3 linked regions of the Homo sapiens genome follow. The protein of the gene in region 1 purifies or fractionates together with the protein of each later gene. This does not show direct contact. Each region holds a gene or a part of one and is shown on either strand. Other genes may lie near its edges.

The links. Proteins that work in one complex are often made in the same cells at the same time.
Region 2: the proteins of PREP (region 1) and DCTN5 fractionate together in Homo sapiens (co-fractionation; one large-scale study listed by BioGRID). This does not show direct contact.
Region 3: the proteins of PREP (region 1) and KCNAB2 fractionate together in Homo sapiens (co-fractionation; one large-scale study listed by BioGRID). This does not show direct contact.

The regions. Positions count from the first base shown.
Region 1 is NC_000006.12:105,277,583-105,281,082, forward strand, and holds part of PREP (prolyl endopeptidase), read right to left. Parts: exon of another isoform or gene 3,039-3,500; intron 1,497-3,038; exon of another isoform or gene 1,434-1,496; intron 857-1,433; coding exon 562-856; 3' UTR 1-561. UniProt on the Homo sapiens protein: Cleaves peptide bonds on the C-terminal side of prolyl residues within peptides that are up to approximately 30 amino acids long.
Region 2 is NC_000016.10:23,672,466-23,675,218, forward strand, and holds part of DCTN5 (dynactin subunit 5), read left to right. Parts: 3' UTR 1-2,753. UniProt on the Homo sapiens protein: Part of the dynactin complex that activates the molecular motor dynein for ultra-processive transport along microtubules.
Region 3 is NC_000001.11:6,087,388-6,090,887, forward strand, and holds part of KCNAB2 (voltage-gated potassium channel subunit beta-2), read left to right. Parts: intron 1-79; coding exon 80-124; intron 125-1,620; coding exon 1,621-1,664; intron 1,665-3,001; coding exon 3,002-3,088; intron 3,089-3,500.

The DNA.
Region 1 (3,500 bases):
TCAAAGCTAACAAACATTCTATGACTTAACTGCTTGAAAACTAACTTGTTGCAGAAAGGTGAAATGCTTTATTCTCACAGAAAACTCCACTTCTGGAGTTGCCCCTCAATATGAAGAAACCGGAAGTAAAAGCCTGTCATTCTTAAATAACATTTATTATTGTTGCAAAGAAGTCTTCTCCATGAGAACAGTTCTCACATTTATTTAAAGATATAGAGGTTATGGATATAGATAAGTATGCCCGACTATGATCCTTAATTCAGCAATCTAATATTCACAATGTGTTTGTTGCCATTTAGCTATTTATCCCAACATGCCCTTAAAAAAAACACCAAAAAACCACATGTGCCTAGACAGGGTGGAAAAAGAAACACCAAGGCCTTGCTAAAAAGGAGAAGCCTAAAAAAGATAAAATTCCCACGGCAGTTCTGTTCAACTGTAGCCTGTGAGTGCAGGAATAATGTTCCCGTGGGGAAGCATTATGCCCAGTGGTTTCTTGGTGTCAACGTGGGAAAGCCCTTGAGGTTTTCTGTCGCTGTCAGGAGGAAGCACGAAAACTGTTTATGGAATCCAGTCGACGTTCAGGCACCGCGCGATGAACGCAAACATGTCTGAGACTTCCTCTATCACTTTGGCTGTGGGCTTCCCCGCCCCGTGGCCCGCCTTGGTGTCCACGTGGATAAGCAGGGGGTTGCTTTGCTTCCTGCTGCGGCCCACGATGTACTGAAGGGTGGCAATGAACTTCAGGGAGTGAAGCGGGACCACGCGGTCATCATGGTCAGCAGTGAGGAGCAGCATGGACGGGTACTGGATGTCATCTGCTTCTGGTAACTTCACATTATGCAATGGAGAGTATCTGGAAGGCAAAAACACCTTTGTGAGGCTGGAGAGCAACAGTAGAGTTTTATGGCACAGGGACCTAGGTAGTTAATTAGCAGTGAGGACTGCAGTTAACTAGTACGTGAGTGACCACCATGGACTGTGCCTATGCGTTACCATTTAGGCCATGACTGGCAAGGGCTCCTGGAAACTGGGGAGCTGTGTCATTTATGTGGCTCCAACTTTGAAAGACTGTAGGAAGGAAGCTCACAGGTCTGTTGAAACAACCCAAATCACAGGCATGCTTACTGTCTCTTAAGGTGAGTAGTTTCATATTCTCTAGGCTTTTTTTTTACTGCTACAAAGTGGAGTAATAATTGTCATTATAACCACACTCAGTGGTTCAAAAAAAGTCCAAGCCTTTCTTTTGTTGAGAAACTTGAAATCCACAGTATAAAGGGGCTTGCTGCCCCTTTAATAACATCTATAAAGCCTTTATTCCAGGCTCAGTTTTGCAATCTTAGGAAAAGCACATGTCCTCTCTGGGCCTAGTTTCTTTGTAAACCGAGAAACCTGGATGGGCTGTTGAGCCTCCTGCTGGCTCTCAGTCCGGCAGAAAGCAACAGACTTTGCCAGAGGAGGAGGGCACCTTCCGAAGTACCAGGCAAGTTTCCTGGGTAAGTTAACAAAAAGGGTGTTAAGTATAAAAGTAATGTTGATTTTAACAGTGACTGATAATAGTTGAAATATCTGGATATTTTTTCTTTACATTCTCCTAATAGGGGTGTCATGTTTTTCAATGTATTTAATATTTATTAATGAATAAAATCACCTGTTTTAGTAGAGTTTTATTTTGAAGGGTAGGTAAATAGTGAAAACAGTAAAAATTCTGCTCAGTTAACCAACGTGAGGCCAAAACATTCTTGGGCTCAGTTTCCCACCAGATAAGATGGAGATCTGTTTTCTGATCTCATTTAAGAGTGTCTTTTGACCAGCCCCATTCTTCCAAATATGGGTTAGTTCTAAAAAGAAACAAGTTTGGAAAACCCTGCCTGTTAATAATAACAATCTCCCCCTTGGAGATTCACATGCAATATTTATACATTATCTGTAGGAAAAAATACATTAGGCTTTATTTATCGCCCAGCCATTCAAACTTGGAGCTCTAGCTCTTTTTTTGGGGAAACACCTTTTACTAATTCTGGATGGTGCTCCATGAGGCACAGCCCAGGGGGCGGGGAGGTGTGCTGGGCTTGAGGAGCTCCCTGTAGGACCCTTCCTAGCTAGTGTGGGCTGAGTTCCATGCTCATTTTACCAGCCGCAGGTGAAATGCAGCCCTGTGAGAGCAAGATTTGAAAACTGAAGAAGGAACATCATGGAGAAAAATATTTAGAACTTTCTTTGTTTTTAAATTAAGTTTGAAAGTATTAGGTGTCATCTAATATTCTTTTGCCTTCAATTAACTCAGTATTTTCAAATGAGTTTAAATAGGACTTGTTTCCTTACGTGCAAATTTTCTCTAAGTTAGATATTCCTTCTTCAAATATATAGCTTCTACCAATGTGTGTCAATGAGGCCTGCATGTACTGAAAAGTAATAACTTTCATAGTGAACTTTGTTTCCCCTTAGAGAATAGAGTTTAGTAAAGTATCCAGTTAAAAAAAATTCAGTCATTTTAAGTATATTTCAAACTGGAGAGGCTAGCCATAAAAAGCAAACAAAATGAAAGAGCAAACTTTAGAAACTTGGCCGTGTGCGGTGGTGCGCACCTGTCGTCCCAGCTACTCAGGTGGCTGAAGCATGAGAACTGAGAACTGCTTGTACCCAGGAGGCGATGTTGCAGTGAGCCGAGATGGCGCCATTCCACTCCAGCCTGGGTGACAGAGCAAGACTCTGTCTCAAAAAAACAAAACTTTAGAAACTAAAGTTATTTTCATCAAAATTTGTAGTTTACTAATAGGAGGAACAGGCTTCTTGTGCCAGTCTGAGAGCCAAACACTGGTGATTAAAAATAAAACTCTTACATATGGGGAATGAAGGGCCAAAAAGAAGTTTTAATGTCTGTTTACTCATTGTTATCAGCATAGTGGTTGCAGGATACAATGGAAGTTGTGTAAGATTTCAATAATGCAACTTGCAGTTTCAAACATATGTAGCTATATTGAGCATAAAAGAAGTTTAATTGTATTTGAATATATTCCTTTTTTTTTTTGAGACAGGGTCTTGGAATGCAGTGGTGTGATCTTGGCTCACTGTCCCCCCAGGCTCAAGCCATCCTTCCATTTCAGCCTCGCGAGTAGCTGGGACTACAAGCATGCATCACCATGCCCAGCTAATTATTTGTAGAGACAGTACAGTATTTCACCACATTGCCCATGAAGGACTGGTCTTGAACTCCTAAGCTCAAGTGATCTACCTTGGCCTCCCAAAGTGCTGGGATCACAGGTATGAGCCACCATACTCAACACCCCCTTCCCCTACTCTTGACCTGCCATTTCAGGAGCATATATTCTTTACTTAATTTAGAAAAGGAAATCCCATATATTTGATATAAAGTATAATAATACCTTTTGATTGTTACAGTAACAAATTACCACAAATTTTAGCAGCTTGAAACATCACAGACTTCTTATCTCACAGTTCTGTAAGCCAGCAGTCTGGGTTGGCTCAGCTGGGTTCTC
Region 2 (2,753 bases), on another chromosome or scaffold:
TTAGTCTATTGAGTTTAACCGACAGATCATACTGTGTTTTGGTAGGGAGGGAGGGAGGAAGCAAGCAAGTGAACAAATGAGTCTGGGATTTAGGACTTGCCAGACAAACAAGGCCCAAGAGGCAAGTGTGCAGGTGGGTGTAGTTGGGAGTCAGCAGAGTTGGGTTGGAATTCAAGCTTTGCCACCTGCTGGCTATAAACCTTGGTTGGGTAAGTAACCCAAGGTAAATGAGATCATCTCTGTAAAACTCTTAGCCTTGTGCCTGGCACATAGTAAATGCTTAATAAGGGTTCACTGTTAGTATTACTGTTACTGATAACATACAAATAGATTGTATTAATGGACCATAATTGCAACTGTATAAAACAAATTCCATGTTTGGCCAGGCGCAGTGGCTCAAGCCTGTAATCCCATCACTTCGGGAGGCCGAGGTGGGCAGATCACGAGGTCAGGAGATCAAGACCATCCTGGCTAACACAGTGAAACCCCATCTCTACTAAAAATACAAAAAAATTAGCCAGGCATGGTGGCGGGTGCCTGTATTCCCAGCTACTTGGGAGGCTGAGGCAGGAGAATGGCGCGAACCCAGGGGGCGGAGCTTGCAGTGAGCTGTAATTGTGCCACTGCACTCCAGCCTGGGCGACAGAGCGAGACTCCGTCTCAAAAAAAAAAAAAAAAACCACAACAACAACAACAAAAATTCCATGTTGACAAGGATGGGAATATGAGAACATGGAAACAGCTATGAAAAGACATAAGAGAATTAGGAGGATTTTCTTTAATATATCATTTTTTAAAAAAAAACTTGCTTGTATTTGTTTATTTTTTAAATAGAGACAGGGTTTTACCATGTTGCCCAGACTAGTCTTGAACTCCTGGGCTCAAGCGATCTTGGCCTCCCTAAGTGCTGGGATTACAGTCATGAGCCACTGTGCCCCGCCATTTTTTAATAAACCTTTCTAATGGAACAAGTAAAACACATGCAGTGGATGCTCAGCAGGCCTTGAGTGTGTGAATGAAAAATATTTGAACTTGTTTTTACTGGTTGATTTCATTGCTTAAAAAACATACCTTAGCTGGACGCAGTGGCGTGCGCCTGTAGTCCCAGCTACTCATCTCTTAAAAAAAAAGTTTTATGCTTGTTAATTTCATAAATGCTAGAGGGATCACCCTAATCAAATAAAGCTACTCAAAAATAAAATATGAAAGGTGTTAGTGGGATACAGCTTTCTAGTTTTTTGCCACTAGTGGATAGGTTGGAATTTAAATTCTTCGGATATTGGAACCAGAACAGGCTGTAACTGATTATTTTTGCTGTGATTCGTGCTTACTGGAGCCTCGGGAAAGAGGGAGACAACATGTAAAGAGAAGCAATCTGTTTGGAAAATGAAAATACAGTTAAATTGCTAATGAACCCTTGTCAAAATCAAATGTCTCCCCTTAGAGGCTGATGATTGTCTAGTCTAATATGCATTTTTTTTGAGTGGGTCAATTGGACTCTAAGACCAACAAGATAAAAAGGCAGCCTTGCATGTCACTTGGACCACAGCTGTCTGGCCATGCAGCATGCCTTCACTGCTGCTGAAGAAAAGCAGCTGCTTGTTGAGAATCTCAAATTCTCAGATCCTAATTGCCTGGCCCTGACTCTAAGCTGAAACCTGCTACTGTCTGCCTTGAGCTGTTTTAGCCTCAACACGAGCTATGCTGAACTGAAAGCAGGCACAGGCTCAATGACCAGGACTCAGACGTTGGGGCCGTTGGAGATTAAGGACCCCCTCCGTGGAGCGCTAAACTATGAAAACGTCCTGGAACCTGGCTGAAAAGGGCTTATTCTCTAATGGGACCATCTAAGATCAAGCTGCTGATAGGCTCTTTGTCTCTAATACAGAGGCTAATTGCATTCCTAACTTCTAATATTTGCCAAACGCTCCAAGCTGGGGAAGGGCACATCGCAAGGACTATGACCTCTCCTCCTGCTTTTGACAGACCAGACTCAAACCTTCTCTGGGGCTTCTCTCACTGCTGTTGACTTGTTGCATTCAGCTTTTGGGATTAGTTGCAGCTTGCAACAGTGGACTGACAGCCTGACTCTACTTCCCTCACTTTTCTCCCAGCACACACAGCTTAGTAAGGTAGGTGGATTATTAAAACGTAGCTGTCCCCAGAAAGGTATTAGGCTTTTCTAGTCTGCTCATTGAATAATCAGGACAAAAGGGGTAGAAGATTATGTAAACACATTTTGAAATTTTTAAAAATTCAGGGTTTCATCCTTTATTAGTTTGCTAAGGATACCATAACAAAGTACCACAAACTGAGTGACTTACACAATAGAAACTTATTTTCCTGCAGTTCTGGAGGCTGAAAGTCCAGGACAAGGTGTCGACAGCTTTAGATTCTTCTGAGGCCTCTCTGCTTGGCTTGCAGATGGCTGCCTTCTTACTGTGTCCTTGTATGGTCCCTCTGTCTGGGTGTCTGTGTCCTAATCTTCTCTTTTAATAAGGATACCACTCAGGTTGGATTAGGGCCCATCCTAACAATCCCATTTTAACTTAGTTACCTCTTCAGGGCCTATCTTCAAATATACTCACATTTTGAGGTACAGGTAGATGGTTAGGGCTTCAGCATGAATTTTTGTGGGGACATAATTCAACCCTCCACACATAATTACCAATTTCTGAATGTCTTTCTGGTTAAGTTGCATAAAAACGTTTATCTACTTGAACTCTAGGATGATAGTTAAAAAAAAAAATGTT
Region 3 (3,500 bases), on another chromosome or scaffold:
AGATGAGGACGTCGGGGATGAAGGAGGACCCCCCAGGGGCCGGGCTTATCACACCCCTTCTTTCTCTTCTGTTCCACAGGCGGTCCAGCCTCGTCATCACCACCAAGATCTTCTGGGGCGGAAAGTAGGTGCAACAGCTGGCGATGCTTCCAGCCCCGGCCCAGCAGCCACGGCCCCGTGCTCCCCAGAGACCCCTGACCTAGAAGGCTCCTGGGGTGGCGGGAGGACAGTCCTCCTTGAGAAGGGAGAGTGGTCGGGGTCTGTCCTGGACAGGCCCCGGCCCAGTGCCATTTCCTGTCCCCAGCAGGGGCAGAGCTGGTGTTTCTGCAGCCATCAGCTATGCCTGGTGCCTGTCCCTGTTAAGGGACGTCAAATCCAGAAAAGAAGCTGTGGCCGAGTTTGCCTTTTACAAAAACCTCGCTTAACTTTCCTTTTTACTCACATGGATTATTTTTTCCTGGTCACTATGGTAACATCATAAAAATTATAGAGAAAACAGAAAATTTGTGAACTGCCCAAACCCCCAAAGCACTCCAAATTCCCTGGGCCGCCTGTCACCCCTGCAGGTCTCCAAGTGTCTAGCTCCATAGTTTCTGGGCTGGACACACTTGGGCTCATAGGAATTATAACTACGATTCATTCATTCATTCTTTTTTTTATTTTTATTTTGTTTTTATTTTTTATTTTTTTGAGACAGGGTCTCGCTTTGTAATCCAGGTTGGAGCGCAGTGCCACAATCACAGCTCACTGTAGCTTCAAACTCCTGGGCTCGAGCGAGCCTCCCACCTCAGCCTACAGGGATGAGCCACCATGCCTGACTAATTTGTCCTTTTTCTCTCTCTCTCTTTTTTTTTTTTTTTTTGAGACAGGGTCTCACTTTGTCACCCAGGCTGGAGTACAGTGGCGTAGTCCCAGCTCACTGCAGCCTCAACCTCCTGGGTTCAAGTGACCTTCCTGCCTCAAGTAGCTGGTTCTACAGGCACATGCCACCATGCCCAGCTAATTTTTTTATTTTTATTTATATTTTTATTTTTGTATTTTGTAGAGATGGGGTTTCATCATGTTGTCCAGCCTGGTCTCAAACTCCTGAGTTCAAGTAATCTGCCCACCTCAGCTTCCCAAAGCACTAGGATTGCAGGCGTGAGCCACCACGCCTGGCATTAATTTGTCCTTTTTTAAGATATGGGGTCTCACTATGTTGCCCAGGCTGGTCTTGAACTCCTGGGCTCAAGTGATCCTCCTGCCTTAGCCTCCCAAAGTGCTGGGATTACAGGCGTGAGCCACTGTGCCCAGCCTGATGTGTTCTTAATTTAAAAAATAATAATAATAATAATAATAATAATAAGTCCAAATCAAACAGACGGGTTAGGTTGAAAATCAAAGCCCCCCACCCCCTGCTGCTGCCCCCCTCCCCTCTGAGCCCTGTGACCAGGCCTCTCCCTGGGCCTCTGGGAGTTCAGCCCTGTAGCCTCGGGTCCCTACCCCCAAAGTGGAATCCGACTCCACACGGCATTTGCTGACCCTGTTTTTGCGTCTAACATTGCATCGTAAACGTTTTTTGGGAGGGGCCAGGGTGCCAAAACCGCTGGTGACATCACACGCGGTCGGCCTGTTTTCCAGGGCGGAGACGGAGCGGGGCCTGTCCAGGAAGCACATAATCGAAGGTGAGGACGCGCTCGGGCACCTCAGGGCCCCCATACCTGTGGGATCATCCTCGGAGGCCAAAGTGATGGCAGCACAGGGCCCGACCCCCCCAGTTAACCCACTGAGGGCCCAATCCCGGGGCACCCGGTGCTCTGGCCTGACCTTCTCCTTCCACCCAGGTAGCACAGCGGGACGCTGCAGAGAACGAGGGCAGCCCGGTGGCTGAGCACAGACCACAGACCAGCCTGGGTTTCAATCCAGGTTTGGCCCCACACTGGCTGAGTGGGTCTTCAGCAGGGGCACCCTGCCCCATGCCTCTGCCACAGTATCTGTGCAATAGGGACAGTAAGAGCGCACCCGGCGAGGGTGGCTGGGATGCCTGCAGCGCCCAGGAGAAGGTGCCACACAGCCCGGGGCTCAGCACTCGCAGGCACCGGAGCAAGGCACCGGGGTGTCTGGCTCTTGCTGTATCTTTATTGTCTTCATGCCTTTCCTGTCCGTGTTCATTTTCTTCGAGGTAATAGATCATTCCATTGAAAATCACCTGGCGGGGCAAGCCACCCACTCCCATCCTCCCCACCCCAACCCAGCGTTTCACTCTGCCGGCTGTGTGTCCTGAGCTGCTCTAAGCACCAGCGGGTGGCTTGGGCGTTTTAGACACTATTGCCATTGTTTTTGTTTTTGAGATGGAGTTTTGCTCTTGTTGCCCAGGCTGGAGTGCAGCGGCACGATCTTGGCTCACTGCAACCCCCACCTCCTGGGTTCAAGCAATTCTCCTGCCTCAGCCTCCTGAGTAGCTGGGATTACAGGTGCCCACCACCACATCTGGTTAATTTTTTTTGTATTTTTAGTAGACACAGGGTTTCACTATGTTGGCCAGGCTGGTCTCAAACTCCTGGCCCTCAAGTGATGCGCCCGCCTTGGCCCCCCAGAGTGCTGGGATTACAGGCATGGGCCACCACGCCCGACCATAGACACTATTGCCTTTGATGGGACGGGCAGCAGGTGTAGCCCTCCCTCCACATGTGATAGATAAAGTCATCTCCCTGTTGTAATACACAGTGGCCTCAGAGGAGGGTATATTGTCTGAGGGAGGAGGGGCTTCCCCTTCATTTAGTCAAGGACACGTGGCCTGTGGTCCCCCGATGTCCTCCTGAAGGGAAGATCCCCCCACTCCCTGTGGGATGTGCCCCCACCTCTGCCGTGGCATTTCACGACCTCCATCAGCTTCTGGAAGCTTCCAGATGCCAGAGGCCTCTTCTCCATCTCTTGTTCCCTGAGCCGGGCATGGATGGGCCCAGGTGCCTGTGGAGATGGAGCCACAGCAGTGACGCCCCCCCACCTGGTCCTCCCCCAGGTCTGAAAGCTTCCCTGGAGCGACTGCAGCTGGAGTACGTGGATGTGGTGTTTGCCAACCGCCCGGACCCCAACACCCCGATGGAAGGTAGGTGGTCTGCGGCGGCGCCACCGGTTAGGCCTGGGCGGGGTCTGAAGGGTCTGAACCTGGGGTTGTAGAGGCCGCCAGCATGGGCCCTGCTGGGCACCCGGGTGAGCCGTGAGAGGAGGCCGGGTCCAGGGTGGGGGGCGAGGGGGCAGGCCTCCCCTCAGTAGGGGGTGAACTCAGCCTCTGGCTGCAGACCCCTCGCCAGGTGCACCTGGCACCTCCAGGCTGAGTCCCTGTCCTGGCTTTGGACCCAGGCCGATCCGCCCTCCGAGTCAGAGCCGCAGTGGAACTGTCCCCTCCCCTCTGCGGCTGCTATTTTGCAGCTAAGTGAAGTCGCAGTGTGGGGACTCCAACTGCGGTGTTCTCTCCAATCACCATCCATTGGGAAGCTTGGGGGGACTTTTTTGCTCTG